Linked DNA regions of Homo sapiens: region 2 is linked to region 1. The links come from fine-mapping of genetic effects on gene expression. Tissue or cell type: Th17 cells. Region 1 holds a variant in brackets; the other region holds the start of a gene. All regions are shown on one strand. Distances are from middle to middle.

Region 1 (8,115 bases):
AGTTCAATTATTGTAATTTTTAGCTCCCACAAATAAGTGAAAACATGTGAAGTTTGTCTTTCTGTGCCTGGCTTATTTTACTTAACATAATGACCTCCGGTTCCGTTCATGTTCTTGCAAATGACAGGATCTCATTCTTTTTTACGGCTGAATAGTACTCCATTGTGTCTATGTACCACATTTTCTTTATCCATTCATCTGATGATGGACACTTAGGTTGCTTCCCAATCTTGGCTATTTTGAATAGTGTTACGATAAACATAGGAGTAAAGATTTCTCTTTGATACACTGATTTCCTTTCTTTTGGGTTTATCCTAGGAGGGGGAATGCTGGATCATAAGGTAGCTCTATATTTAGGAAACTCCAAATTGTTTTGAGGAACCTCCAAATTGTTCTCCATTTTGGCTATATTAATTTACATTCCTACCAACAGTGTACAAGAGTTCCCTTTTCTCCACACCCTTGCCAGCATTTGTTATTACCTGACTTTTGGATGAAAGCCATTTTAACTGGAGTGAGATGATATCGCATTGTAGTTTTGATTTGCATTTCTCTGATGATCCATGATGTTGAACAGCTTTTCATATCCCTGTTGGCCATTTTTGTGTCTTCTTTTGAGAAATGTCTATTCAGATCTTTTGCCCATTTCTAATTGGATTATTAGACTAGTCCTATGAAGTTGTTTGAGTTGTTTATATAGTCTGATTTTAATCCTTTATCAGATGGATAGTTTGCAAATATTTTCTCCCATTTTGTGGGTTATCTCTTCAGTTTGTTGATTGTTTCCTTTGCTGTACAGAAGCTTTTTAACTCGATGTGATCCCATTTGTCCATTTTTGCTTTGGTTGCCTGTGCTTGTGGGTTATTACTCAAGAAATCTTTGCCCAGTCCAATGTCCTGGAGAGTTTCCCTAATGTTTTATTTTGGTAGTTTCATAGGTTGAGGTCTTAAATATAAGTCTTTAATCCATTTTGATTTTATTTTTTATATGGCAAGAGATAGGGAGATGGGGTCTAGTTTCATTCTTCTGCATATGGATATCCAGTTTTCCCAGACAATTTACTGAAGAGGCTGTCCTTTTCCCAGTGTATGTTCTTGGCACCTTTGTTGAAAACAAGTTTGCTGTAGATGTGTGGATTTATTCTAGGCTCTCTGTTCTGTTCCACTGATCTACATATCTGTTTTTATTCCAGTACCACGTCATTTTGTTTACAATAGCTCTGTACTATAATTTAAAGTCAGGTAATGTGTTTCTTCCAATTTTGTTCTATTTGCTCAGGATAGCTTTGGCTATTCTGGGTCTTTTGTGATTCCATATACATTTTAGGACTGTTTTTCTTCTATTTCTGTGAAGAACGTCCTTGATATTTTGATAGGGATTCCATTGAATCTGTAGATTGTTTTGGGTAGTATGGACATTTTAACAATATTAATTCTTCTAATCCATGAACATGGAATCTCTTTCTAGTTTTTGGTGTCCTCTTCAATTTCTTGCATTAGTGTTTTACAGTTTTTATTGTAGGTATCTTTGACTTCTTTGGTTAATTCCTAGGTATTTTATTTTATTTGTAGCTGTTATAAATGGGATTACTTTCTTGATTTCTTTTTCAGATTGTTTACTTTTGGCATTTACAAATGCTACTAATTTTTCTATGTTGATTTTGTATCTTGCAACTTTACTGAATTTATTTATGAGTTCTGATAGTTTTTTGGTCGAGTCTTTAGGTTTTTCTAAATATAAGATCATATCATCTGCAAACAAGGATATTTTGACTTATTCTTCTCCAATTTGTGTGCTCTTTATTTCTTTCTCTTGTCTGATTGTTCCAGCTAGGACTTCCAGTACTACGCTGAATAACAGTGGTGACAGTGGGCATCCTTGTCACGTTCCAGATCAAAAAGAAAGGCTTTCAGTTTTTCCCCATTGTGTATGGCACTAGTTGTTGGTCGGTCATATATGGTTTTTATCATGTTGGGGTATGCTCCTTCTATACCCAGATTTTTGAGGATTTTTATCATGAAGGGATGTTCGATTTTATCAACATCAATTGATATAATGACTTATTATTAATTGATTTATCAGCATCAATTGAAATGATCTCATGGTTTTTACACTTCATTCTGTTGATATGCTATATCACATTGATTGATTTGCATATGTTGAACCATTCTTGCATCACTAGAATGAAACCCACCTGGTCATGATGAATCATCTTTTTAATGTGTTGTTGAATTCAGTTTGCTATCTTGTTGAGGATTTTTGCAATTATATTCATCAGTGATATTGGCCCATAGTTTTCTTTTTCTGATGTGTCTTTGTCTGGTTCTAGTATTAGAGTAATATTGGCCTCGTAGAATAAGTTTGGAAGTATTCCCTCCTGTTCTACTTTTTGAAATAATTTGAGTAGGATTGGTAGTAGTTCTTTAAATGTTTGGTAGAATTCAGCAGTGAAGCCCCCGGGTTCCGGGCTTTCCTTTGCTGGGAGACTTTTTATTATGGCTTTGATCTTATTACTTGTTATTGGTCGGTTCAAATTTTGGATTTCTTCATTGTTCAATCTTGGTAGGCTGTACGTGTCTAGGAATTTATCCATTTCTTCTAGATTTTCCAATTTATTGGCATATCGTTGCTCACAGTAGCCACTAATGACCCTTTGAATTTCTGGGGTATCAGTTGTAATGTCTCCTTTTTCATCTCTGATTTAATTTATTTGGGTCCTCTCTTTTTTTCTTAGTCTGACAAAATGTTTGCCAATTTTGTTTATCTTTGCAAAAAAACACAACTTTTTGTTTCACTGATATTTTGTGCTGTTTTCTTCATTTTAAATTCATTTATTTATGCTCTGATATTTATTATTTTCTATCTTCTCCTAATTTTGGATTTTGTTTGCTCTTGCTTTTCTAGTTCTTTAACATCTATCATAAGGTTGTTTATTTAAAGTTCTTCTTTTTTGATATAGGCACTTATAGCTATAAACTTTCATCTTAGAACTGCTTTTCATATATATCACATATTTTGGCGTGTTGTGTTTCCATTATAATTTGTTTCAAGAAATTTTGAATTTTCCTTCTTAATCTCTTCATTGACCCACTGGTCATTCAGGAGCATGGTGTTTAATTTCCATGTGTTTGTATAGTTTCTAAGATTCCTCTTGTTATTGACTTCTAGTTTTATTCCATTGTGATCAGAGAAGATGCTTGATTTTATTTCAATGTTTTAAGACTTGTTTTATGACCTAACATATGGTCTCTCCTTGACAATGATCCATGTGCTGAGGAAAAGAATGTGTATTCTGTAGCTGTTAGTGGAAATGTTCTGTAAATATAAATTAGGTCCATTGGGTCTATAGTGCAGATTAAGTCCAATGTTTCTTTGCTGATTTTCTATCTAGAAGATCTGCCCAATGCTGAAAGTAGGGTGTTGAAGTCTCCAGCCATTATTATATTGGAGTCTATCTCTCCCTTTAGCTTTAAAAATATTCACTTTATATATCTGGGTGCTCCAGTGTTGATTGTACATATATTTATTTTTATTTCTATTTTTT[TC/C]TTTTTTTAATCTTATTTATTTTTATTTTTTATTTTTTATTTTTTTTAATTATTTTTTTATTTTTATTTTTTTCATTGATCATTCTTGGGTGTTTCTTGCAGAGGGGGATTTGGCAGGGTCACAGGACAACAGTGGAGGGAATGTCAGCATACAAACAAGTGAACAAAGGTCTCTGGTTTTCCTAGGCAGAGGACCCTGCGGCCCTCCGCAGTGTTTGTGTCCCTGGGTACTTGAGATTAGGGAGTGGTGATGACTCTTAACGAGCATGCTGCCTTCAAGCACCTGTTTAACAAAGCACATCTTGCACCGCCCTTAATCCATTTAACCCTGAGTGGACACAGCACATGTTTCAGAGAGCACAGGGTTGGGGGTAAGGTCATAGATCAACAGCATCCCAAGGCAGAAGAATTTTTCTTAGTACAGAACAAAATGAAGTCTCCCATGTCTACTTCTTTCTACACAGACACAGCAACAATCTGATTTCTCTATCTTTTCCCCACCTTTCCCCCTTTTCTATTCCACAAAACCGCCATCGTCATCATGGCCAGTTCTCAATGAGCTGTTGGTACACCTCCCAGATGGGGTGGTGGCCGGGAAGAGGGGCTCCTCACTTCCCAGAAGGGGCGGCCGGGCAGAGGCGCCCTCCACCTCCGGGACGGGGCAGCGGCCGGGCGGAGGCGCCCCCCACCTCCCTCCCGGACGGAGCGGCCGGCCGGGCGGGGGCCGACCCCCCACCTCCCTCCCGGACAGGGTGGCTGCCGGGCGGAGACGCTCCTCACTTCCCAGATGGGGTGGCAGCCGGGCGGAGGGGCTCCTCACTTCTCAGACGGGGCGGCCGGGCAGAGACGCTCCTCACCTCCCAGACGGGGTCGCCGCCGGGCAGAGGCGCTCCCCACATCTCAGACGATGGGCGGCCGGGCAGAGACGCTCCTCACTTCCTAGACGGAATGGTGGCCGGGAAGAGGCGCTCCTCACTTCCCAGACTGGGCAGCCGGGCAGAGGGACTCCTCTCATCCCAGACGATGGGTGGCCAGGCAGAGACGCTCCTCACTTCCCAGATGGGGTGGCAGCCGGGCAGAGGCTGCAATCTCGGCACTTTGGGAGGCCAAGGCAGGCGGCTGGGAGGTGGAGGTTGTAGCTAGCCGAGATCACGCCACTGCACTCCAGCCTGGGCAACATTGAGCACTGAGTGAACGAGACTCCGTCTGCAATTCCGGCACCTCGGGAGGCCGAGGCTGGCGGATCACTCGCGGTTAGGAGCTGGAGACCAGCCCAGCCAACACAGCGAAACCCCGTCTCCACCGAAAAAAGACGAAAACCAGTCAGGCGTGGTGGCGCCGCCTGCAATCGCAGGCACTCGGCAGGCTGAGGCAGGAGAATCAGGCAGGGAGGTTGCAGTGAGCTGAGATGGCAGCAGTACAGTCCAGCCTTGGCTCGGCATCAGAGGGAGACCGCGGAAAGAGAGGGAGAGGGAGAGGGAGAGGGAGAGGGAGAGGGCATATATTTAAAATTATTATATCCTCTTGCTGAATAGACCACTTTATCATTATATAATGACCTTCTTGGTTTCTTCTTATAGTTTTCATCTTGAAATTTATTTTGTCTGATGTAAGTATAGCTACTCCTGCTCTTTTTTGGTTTCCATTGGTATGGAATTTTTTCTGGCCCTTTGTCTTCAGTTTATGTGTGTCTTTACAGATGAAGTACGTTTCCTGTCAGCAACAGATCATTGGGTCTTTTTTTCCCCCCATTCAGTCACTCTGCATATTTTGATTGGCAAATTTGGCCCATTTACATTCAGTGTTGTTGTTGATAAGTAAGCCCTCACTCCTGTCATTTTATTGTTTGTTGTCTGGTTGTTTTGTGGTCTTCTCTTCCTTTTTTCCAGTCTTCCTTTTAGTGAAGGTGATTTTCTCTAGTGGTATGATTTAATTTCTTGTTTTTTATTTTTTATGTATTTGTTGTTTGTTTTTTGACTTGAGGTTACTATGAGGCTTGCAAATACTGTCCTATAACCCTTTATTTTAATGACTTAACTTTGTTTGCATAAACAAACAAACAGACAAGCAAAAGAAAACTAATAAAAATTCTACACCTTAACTTTGTCCTCCCACCTCGCTTTGTAGCTTTTTGTTGTTTCTACTTATATATTATTGTATTGTCTGTGTCTTTAAAATTTGTTGCAGTTATTATTTTTGATTAATCATTTAGTCTTTCTACTTGAGTAGTTTACTGTGATAATACTCTGTGTTTTTCTGTATACTTACTATTACCAGTGAGTTTTGTACCTTCAGATGACTTCTTATTGCTTATTAATATTCTTTTCTTTCTAATTGAAGTTCTCCATTTAATATTTCTTGCAGGACAGAGCTGGTGTTGATGAAATCCCTCAGCTTTTGTCTGGGAAAGTCTTTATTTGACTCTCATGTTTGAAGGATATTTGCACTGGATATACTATTCTAGGGTAAAGGCTTTTTTCGTTCAGCACTTTAAATATGTCATGCCACTCTCTCCTGGTTAGTAAGGTTTTCACTGAAAAGTCTACTGCCATCCGTGTTGGAGCTCCATATATTATTTGTCTCTTTTCTCTTGCTGCTTTTAGGATCCTTTCTTTATCCTTGACCTTTGGTAGTTTGATTATTAAACCCCTTGAGATAGTCTTCTTTGGATTAAATCTGCTTGGTGTTCTATAACCATCTTATAATTGGATATTGATATCTTTCTCTAGGTTTGGGAAGTTCTCTGTTATTATCCCTTTGAATAAACTTTCTACCCCCATCTCTCTCTTTCTCTACCTCCTCTGTAAAGGAGAAACTTTTAGATCTGCCCTTTTGAGGCTATTTTCTAGATCATGTAGGTGGGCTTCATTGCTTTTTATTGCTTTTTCTTTTGTCTCCTGTGACAAAATCTTCTTTCAAATAGTCTGTCAAGCTCACTAACTCTTTCTTCTGCTTGATCAATCTGATATTAAAAGACTCTGATGCATTCTTCAGTATGTCAATTGCATTTTCCAACTGTAGAATTTCTGCTTTATTTTTTATTTTATTTTATTTTATTTTTCAGATGGAGTCTCACTCTGTTGCCAGGCTGGAGTGCAGTGCCATCTCAGCTCACTGCAACCTCTGCCTCTCGGGTTCAAGTGATTCTCCTGTCTCAGCCTCCTGAGTAGCTTGGGCCTACAGGTGGGCGCCACCATGCCCAGTTAATTTTTACATTTTTAGTAAAGACAGGGTTTCATTATGTTGGCCAGGACGGTCTCAATCTCTTGACCTCTTGATCCACCCGCCTCGGCCTCCCAACGTGCTGGGATTACAGGCATGAGCTGCCGCATCTGGCCTTCTGCTTTATTTTTTAAAAATTACTAATCTCTTTGTTAAATTTATTTGATAACATTCTGAATCCCTTCTCTGTATTATCTTGAATTTCTCTGAGTTTCCTTAACACAGTTGTTTGGAATTCTCTGTCTGAAAGGTCACATATCTCTTTTTCTCCAGGATTTGTCCCTGGTGCTTTATTTAGTTTTACTGGATAGTCTTGATGCTTGTGGATGTTTGTCTGTGTCTGGGCACTGAAGAGTTAGGTATTTATTGTAGTCTTCATAGCCTGGGCTTGCTTGTACCAGTCCTTCTTGGAAAGGCTTTCCAGATATTCAAAAATACTTAGGTGTTGTGATCTAAGCCGTAGCTGCATTAGGGGGCACCTCTAGCCCAGAAATGGTCTGATTATTACAGACACGTAGAGGTACCACCTTGATGGTCTTGGATATGATCCAGAAGAATTCTCTAGATTATCAGGCAAAGACCCTTGTTTTCTCCCCTTATTTTCTTCCAAACAAATAAAGTCTCTCTCTGTTGTGAACTGCATGGAGCTTGGGGTGGGGTGACACAAGCACTCCTGTGGCCACCACCACTGGGACTGTGCTGGGTCAGACCTGAAGCCAGCACAGCACTGGGTCTCACCCAAGGCCTGCTGTAACCACTCCCTGACTACTGCCTATGTTCACTCAAAGCCCTGGAGCTCTACATTCAGTAGGTGGCAAAGCCAGCCAGACTTATGTACTTCCCTTTGGGGTGGCAGGTTCCCCCAGGCCGAGTAGGTCCAGAGGTTTTATCCTAGAATCAGGGAACTAGAGTAAAAAACCTTAGATGTCTACCTGGTGTTCTGTTGTACTGTGGTTGAGCTGGCACTCAAACCAGAAGACGCAGGTTTTCCCACTCTTCCCTCCCCTTTCCAAAGGCAGAGGAGTTCTCATCCTATGGCTACTGCCACCTTAAGCCCAGAGGGGAGTGCTGCCAGACTACTGCTGAAGTTCCCTTTAGGCCCAAGTGCTCTTCAGTCAGCTTGTGGTGAATGCTGCCTGGCCTGAGATACACCCTTCAAGGGAGTGGGCTCCCCTCTAGCCCAGGGCAGGTCCAGAAATGCTGTCTAATTGCCACGTCCTGGAATCGAGAACCACAAGAGCCCACTTTGTGCTCTATCCCACTGTGGCCGAGCTGCTACCTAAGGTGCGAGACAAAGTTCCCTTTGCTTTTCCCTTCACTTTTCTTGAGCAGAAGGAGTCTCTCCCC
Region 2 (8,115 bases), 350 kb before region 1:
TTTTATTTGTCTAAGACAGCATAGGATGTCTTCTGCTTGGTTTTGTACTAGTAGATCAAAATTAACTTTCTCGTATCTGAAATAATTTTTTTGCTAGATCAAAATAAATTTCTCCAGGGAAACAATGCATATTCAAATAGCCTAATTTCTAATAATGCAGGGGACCGAAAACAGTTAAAGGAGAAAGATTTGGTTCAGTTTTAATTATGACTTTCACTTGCTTATTATGGGATTTCTTTTTGGGACTTAACATTTTTATTTTAGATCCAACACTAACTGTCAATGCTTAACTAACATGACTGAAGAAGTTGATCTTACATTTATATTTCTATTCTTATTACAGAATGGATTTAATATGTTAAGATGTTGAACAGAACCATGAACTGCATTTCACAAAATGGTACATTTCATAAAATCTAAAATCCCAGCAAAATGATAGGGACAACAACTTAGCACGCTGTTAATTTTTCACTTAAGGGTGCCAAAATGATATTTCAGTCTTTTTTACATAGAAAGGTCAGATGTCATTCAGTGGCGCTCCTGAACACAGGCAAGTCATTTTCAGAGGTGAAAAAGCTGTGGTTGACTGCTCTTGAAACAGGTTTCTCTACAATCCACCTCTCATCTTTCTTCTCTTACCGAACCCACTCTGGTGTTCACGTCCTGCTATATGTAGGCAAGAGTATACCCATCCTACGCCTTTTAACTCTTTTGAGGGGCATACATAATTCAAGGACAATTAACTTGTTCTACAAATACCAGTTTAGGTGTCAATTTAGCATTCTGCAAATAAGGTATAATACTATAGAAATGGAAGGGGTGATTTCCCCAAGTAATAGGTCTCTTACTGAAAACATGCAAGCACGTTTGTGTCTGGCGTAGTGCTGTATTCTTCAAAGTCTTGAGCAGGGCCTGGTGCAGACTGTATACCCAACAAATATTTCTCTTATTAAAAAGTATAAAGTGAAAGCACAAAAGGGATGGTTAAGCAAGATAAGAAAGATGAGAGGTGGATTACAGACACACCTGTTTCAAGAGCAGTCAACCACAGCTTTTTCACCTACTGAAAATGACTGGCCTGTGTTCAAGAGCACCTCTGAATTACATTCAATCTTTCTATTTAAAAGAGACTGAAACATCATTTTGGTACTCTTAAGAATTTTTTTATTTAAATTTTTTATTTGTATAAATTTATGGGTACAAGTGTAATTTTTTTGCATGTATTGATTGCATAGTGGTCACCCTTTTAGTGTATCCATCACCCTAATAATGTACATTGTACCAATAAGGAATTTCTCATCATCCCTTCTCCTTCTCTCCAGTCTTCTGAGTCTCCACTATCATTCCAAACTCTATGTCCATATGTACACTTTATTTAGCTCTTGCTTATAAGTGAGACCATGATAATGGAAGAGAGATTGGTTAAGCTGACCTCCCAAAGTTCTCCCAACCCTAAGATTCTATGATTCTAGCAGGCTGGATCTCTTGTAGTGTTCTCAGAGAGAACAGCTACTAACCAGTGGTATCTGAAAACTTTAATCTTCTACTTCTGATGAGGTATTTTCTTTTCTTTGTTTCTTTTTTTTTTTGTTTTTTTTTGAGATGGAGTTTCGCTCTTTTCACCCAGGCTGTAGTGCAATGGCATGATCTTGGCTCACTGCAACCCCTGCCTCTCAGGTCCAAGCAATTCTCCTGCCTCAGCCTCCCAAGTAGCTGGGGTTACAGGTGTGCACCACCATGCCCTGCTAATTTGGTATTTTTAGTAGAGATGGGGTTTCACCATGTTGGCCAGGCTGGTCTCAAACTCCTGACCTCAAGAGATCTACCCGCCTCAGCCACCCAAAGTGCGGGGATTATAGGCATGAGTCACGGTGCCCGTCTGATAAGCTATTTTCAAATATAAATTATTGAATAATTATTTTAAAACTATTATTAGTATCTAGAATGTGCATTTTTCTTTTAACTGGTTCAAATGTCCACCAGAATTTTGTTAGTGATAGTGATATTTACATCTAGTTACAACAATGTATAACTAGCTTTACTTTTAATTGTGGTAGAGCAGCAACAGCCTCCTTTCTTTTTGCTTTGTTGATCATTCTATGAAAGCTGGGCAAACTCTTTACTCATCTATCTATCAAATACTTATTTTTTTAGAAGTCACTGAGATTAATAAAATTTATTTTTATTCTGCACCAGATAGTGCTTATATTATTGCATCAATATTAACTGCTATTTCCTATTAAAATTGTAAATCTACTATTTATAATTATTCTTTTGTGAAACTTTGATTAAAGATACTCCTTTGAGACTATTTTAGTAGTAGTAGGTACAGGGATATATGAATGCAGAAATATCATATAAACAACTTGCAAATAACGTAAGTCCTGTTTATATTAGACATACATAAAGGCCCTGTGAAACTTATCATTAAGGAATTTCAGAACAGTCATAGTGGGAAAAGCATGCGGGGAAGACTGCTGATAGCTAAACTGTGACAATAGAAAAGGTCGTATCATAAAATACTGTTAGTATATTTTTGTATGTTTATGCAATTGGTTGAAAATCAGGCAAATTTTTTATAATTTTTGATAAATATTTGACAAAGACTTCAAATATGTCTCTTGTAGTCACCATTGTAGAAATTTGTTTTGTTTAAATTCATTTGGCATTAACTTCCCGCCCCAAAATTCTACATCAATACATCTCTCTTCCTACTCTTCCCAACCCCTCCAAAAAATAACACCAAACTCAAAGCAAGTCACAAACGTTTTGCACAAATAAAGCCAGTTCTCCGTGGAATTAATGTGATAGGTCTTGAATATATTGTTGATAATTAACCCAATCAAGTAACATTGCCAGGAAATCTTTATTCTTTTCCTTTTTTAAAGGTTCATAAACTTTATTTCTTAGAGCAGTTTTAGGTTTACAGAAAAGTTGAACAGGAAGTACAGAGTTCCCATACACTCTCACTCCTGCCCCCTAACCACAGTTTCCTCTATTATTATTAACATAACGCATTGAGGTGGTACATTTGTTACAACTGATGAACTGATATTGATATATCATTAACTAAAGTCAATAGTCTACATTAGGGTTCACTCTTTCTGTTGTATAGTCCTGTGGGTTTTGTCAAATGCATAATGTTATGTATCCACCATTACAGGATAATACAGAACAGTTTCACTGCCCCCAAAATCTTCTGTGTTCCACCTATTTATCCCTCCCTCCAACTCTTACTTTTCTTTTTTAATACCCAAATTAAGCCACAGTAATATAAATTAGTTGGAGCTAAGAATTTGCCAGTGATTCCCCATGGCAATCAAACTTTCTTAATTATTAATCTAGACTAGCACTGTCCAAAAGAAATATAATGTGAGCCATTATGTATTTAAAAAACTCTAGAAGCTGCTTTAAAAGGAACAAGTAAAATTAATTTAATAATATTATACTTATCCCAATATATCCAAAATATCAATTTCAACATTCAGTCAACAGGAAAGCTGAGATATTTTACATTTCGGAGGTACTAATTCTTGAAATCCAGTGCGCATTTTACACTTACAGCACATCTAATTTCAGCCTAGCTACATACATTCCGAGTGTTCAATCAGTAGCCACAAGTAGCCAGTACCTGTCAGGTACAGCACAGATTTAGACTTTGAGCAACTTGAAAGCAGGTTATCCTCTTCTCTCCAGGGCCTCCAGAGTAGGCATGCAGTGAATATTTTTGAAAGGTAAATCAGAAAGATAAAAGGATCCTGATTCTTACAAAGATGTTCTGCAACTACTCTCTTTAAACTCTCCAGCCTCATAAAAAGTGGAATGGGGATCATGCTTATTCCTGCATATCAAACCAATGACTATGGGGCTTCCTGACTCCCAGAAAGCCTGAATCATCCGAAATGTTGACTCATGAACCTAAGGTGACTGAAATGTAACGTGAACCAAATTAGCTTTCCAAGGCATCTTTGTATTTCCACTTTCCTGTCTCCCCGCTGCCTCTCTCTTTGGGTGACTCACTCTCTTACCATGTAAGAGTCCAGCAGGCAAGGCCCCAAACTCTCTTTGGAAGAAGAGCAGACTTTCAAATGGTCGGCCCCAGATCCCTAGTTAATTCAGCACAGCTGTTTTCCTCCCAATTTCGGGGGCTGCGGTTTAGACTGAGTGAGCCTAACTGTCAAAAAACAATTTTTTTCTTATTTTAGGGTGGTAGTAGTAGTGATGTAGTTTGGAACTTTGAGTGAACAAATAATCTTTTATTTCAAAAATCTTTAAAAATCCTTAGGGCCCACTTCCCAGTCCCGCTAATACCTTTCTCCAGTCGGGTTTCTTCCTTTCCCGGGAGGAAAGTTTCCACTCTCAGTTCCCCCAGGATAACGCCCTTCCGGTGGCGCGCCAGAAACCGCGCCGACCCCTCCCAGCCAGCAGCCCGCCCCCTTTCCCAGTGCTCTAACGACATACGGACGCCAGCTGCGGGCAAGGCCAAGACCCCACCCCAACTCACGGTTACCCAAAGTGGGGGTGGAGCTCCCAGCTCTCAGCCCCGCCCATTGAACGCAATCCCAGCCGGTAAGAGAGAGGAAGTGCCGTAGTCCCCACCCACTTTCATCTCCTTCCCTTTCTGTTGGCCCGGCTGGTCGCCTATCTTCTCGATCCTGTAGCCGATTGGCTCTCTCCCTCCCGCGCCAGTCCCTGCCCTCCCCTGGGGAGGGTGAGTCACGCCAAACTGGGCGGAGAGTCCGCTGGCCTCACTCCTAGCTCATCTGGGCGGCGGCGGCAAGTGGGGACAGGGCGGGTGGCGCATCACCGGCGCGGAGGCAGGAGGAGCAGTCTCATTGTTCCGGGAGCCGTCACCACAGTAGGTCCCTCGGCTCAGTCGGCCCAGCCCCTCTCAGTCCTCCCCAACCCCCACAACCGCCCGCGGCTCTGAGACGCGGCCCCGGCGGCGGCGGCAGCAGCTGCAGCATCATCTCCACCCTCCAGCCATGGAAGACCTGGACCAGTCTCCTCTGGTCTCGTCCTCGGACAGCCCACCCCGGCCGCAGCCCGCGTTCAAGTACCAGTTCGTGAGGGAGCCCGAGGACGAGGAGGAAGAAGAGGAGGAGGAAGAGGAGGACGAGGACGAAGACCTGGAGGAGCTGGAGGTGCTGGAGAGGAAGCCCGCCGCCGGGCTGTCCGCGGCCCCAGTGCCCACCGCCCCTGCCGCCGGCGCGCCCCTGATGGACTTCGGAAATGACTTCGTGCCGCCGGCGCCCCGGGGACCCCTGCCGGCCGCTCCCCCCGTCGCCCCGGAGCGGCAGCCGTCTTGGGACCCGAGCCCGGTGTCGTCGACCGTGCCCGCGCCATCCCCGCTGTCTGCTGCCGCAGTCTCGCCCTCCAAGCTCCCTGAGGACGACGAGCCTCCGGCCCGGCCTCCCCCTCCTCCCCCGGCCAGCGTGAGCCCCCAGGCAGAGCCCGTGTGGACCCCGCCAGCCCCGGCTCCCGCCGCGCCCCCCTCCACCCCGGCCGCGCCCAAGCGCAGGGGCTCCTCGGGCTCAGTGGGTGAGTGCCGCGACCTCTCGCTTCGCGCCGCCCCTCGCGCCCCTCCCTCTTTTGTGTGCAGCCCCAGATGCTTTGGGCTGGTCCCTCCTCTCCGCCCCGAGGGCGCTTTGTCTGCGGACTTCGGGGCGATGGCGCCCCGTCTGGTTGGAAGCGCGGGGAGAAGGGTGGGGCGGCCCTTGGAGCCCGGGTTTGTTCTTATTGTCCGTCTTGGTTTCGGGGAACACGTGCACCGCTCCCGGCTCCCACTTTCACCCTGTGTGATGCCCAGCGTACGGATTCTCGGAAGTTAGGCACCCACCCGTAGTAGGAGCCGGGTATATACCCGAGAGCCAGGGTTGTGGATTTATCGGGTTGGTTGGGCTTCGAGGTGAGGAAGGAAAGGCCTTGGCACCCAGATATTTTTAGGAGGTGCTTTTGTCTACCCGTCTGGGTTGCTCCTTTGGAAAAGGTGCAGTTTTGCTGCGGGTCTGTTGGCCTGCATTCTGCCCCGGGCTCCCTCCTCACCTCCTGGCTGGCGTGGGTGGCCCCTTTGCGCTTCCCCTCCCCCTCCTCCTGTGCTCGTGGGGAGCTGGCCGAGTGGAAAACGTCCACATTGACCCAACCGCAGTGAAGGGAGAGCGCCTCCAGTGGTGTGGTGCGTGGAGAAATGGGAAGGAGAGAGTTCTGGTAAAGTCCTGCCACCGCCCAGCTCCCCGGGGTGTGATGTGGACTGCTCCCCACCAGCTAAACCGAGCCAGGGAAAGGGGATCTAGGCATTGTGTTCGAGGGGGCGTAGTTCTGCCGGGGTTTCAGCTGCAGGGTCGGAGGAATTGCTGTTAGTGTGGACTTGGCCCAGCCTCTTAGTGCATCATAATTGAATCTTACAGAAAAAAATAAAAGGCAAAATGGTTGACATTCCTAAAGAAGGGAAAACCTGTGGATTCCTTGCCAGGAATTGGCTAATTGAACTCGTGGCAGATTTACCATGAGACACAGAGAAATGTTTTGAGACAGACATTTTCATATATATTGGTTAGAAATACTGTTTTTCAGAAGGATATGTTTTAGGTTACAGAATCAAAATACGGTCACGTGCCTCATAACGACGTTTAGGTCAAGGACAGACCGCATTTGCAACGGTGGCTCCATAAGGTTGTAATGGAGCTGAAAAATTCCTGCCGCCTAGCGACGTCTTGATCTTGACCCTGTGTAGGCCTAGGGTAATGCGTTTGTATCTTAGTTTTTAACAAAAGTTAAAAAAAAAATAGAAAAAAGCTTATAGAATAAGAATATAAAATTTCTTTTCTATAGCTTTAAAATGTGTTTGTGTTTTAAGTTAAACGTTATTACAAAAGAGCCAAAAAGTTTATAAAATAGAAAAGATACAGTAAGCTAAGGTTGATTTATTATTGAAAAAATATATCTAAAGATAAATTTAGTGTAGCCTAACCGTAGAGTGTCTGTAAGTTGTACAGTAGTACATGGTAATGTCCTAGGCCTTCACATTCACTCACTACTCACGTCCACAGCAGCTTCCAGGCTGGCAAGCTCTGTTCATGGCCAGTGCCCTGCACACGTGTGCCATCTTTTAATCCTTTGTACAGTGTTATTTTAGGTATGTTTAGATAAACACTACACAAATACCATTGTGTTACAGTTGCCTACAGTAACATCCTGTATAGGTTAGTAGCCTAGGAGCAATTGATTATACCATATAGCCTACATATAGGTATGTAGTAGGCTCTACCATCTAGGTTTCTGTAAGTATACTGTGAGGTTTGCACAACGACAGAATTGCCTAACAATACATTTCTCAGATCCTGTTCCCCCTGTTCAGCGAGGCATGACTATGTATGGTCTGTAAAATAGTTTTCAAGTTCTTTCATTCACCTAAGTTCCTGATTGTATGTTATTATTAGTCACGTTGTTTTATTGCCGTTTTCATCTTGGGAAATTATTTTGGAAGCGAAAAAAATCACGTTTGTTAGAGATTGAGAATGCATAATATTAGATACATTCATAAGTACTTGCTACTTCGGGGACAGAAAGTGTCCCACTAGCAGTAGGACCTTTATGTATAAAAGGTCAAGAATCAAGTAGTGTAACTGCCTGCTTGGAAATCTTCATAGCCTTGTAGGATGTTAGAGGTGATTCATTTCTTAAAAGAAAATCAGTCTGATTTTTTTTTTTCTCAATTCACTTCTCCATAATGGGGGAAAATAAGCCAATTGCGATGCTTTTTAGTAATATTTTGATGTTGACGGACTCCTCACCCCCATACTACTCAAAACACTAATTGCCATATTAAAGGTCTTAGAAGATGAGGAGTAACTCAATCTTTTCCTTTTTCTTTATGAAAAAGACATACTTGAGGGAAACTGAGGTAAGAGAAAAATATGAAATATATTTTTAAACAGGAATTTTTTTTTTTTTTTTTTGAGATAGTCTCCCCCTTGTCACCAGGCTGGAGTGCAATGACGCAATCTTGGCTCACTGCAACCTCCGCCTCCCAGGTTCAAGTGATTCTCCTGCCTCAGCCTCCCGAGTAGCTGGGATTACAGGCGCCTGCCACCACGCCTGGCTAATTTTTGTATT

Direction of the effects. Positions count from the first base shown, and alleles are read on the strand shown. Sizes are in standard deviations (SD) of each study's normalised expression.
For the expression in Th17 cells of the gene that starts at base 4,835 in region 2, C is the high allele of the variant in region 1 and TC is the other (large effect, 1.0 SD a copy in Schmiedel 2018).

The links. PIP is the estimated chance that this variant, and not a neighbour inherited with it, causes the effect.
Region 2: RTN4 starts here. The variant in region 1 is fine-mapped to the expression of RTN4 in Th17 cells (Schmiedel 2018, PIP 0.95).

What each region holds. Positions count from the first base shown.
Region 1 is chr2:54,695,314-54,703,428 of GRCh38, reverse strand. No RefSeq gene overlaps it. Among named protein-coding and RNA genes, the nearest start is that of SPTBN1-AS2, 19 kb to the right of the region's middle. RefSeq lists an enhancer at 4,284-4,999. The variant TC/C (reference allele first, on the strand shown) is at 3,546.
Region 2 is chr2:55,047,171-55,055,285 of GRCh38, reverse strand. RTN4 (reticulon 4) reads left to right here and starts at 4,835. Exons shown (of 9, transcript NM_020532.5): 1 at 4,835-5,541. The coding sequence starts at 4,986. RefSeq lists enhancers at 5,005-5,054, 5,017-5,829 and silencers at 5,195-5,254, 5,395-5,514.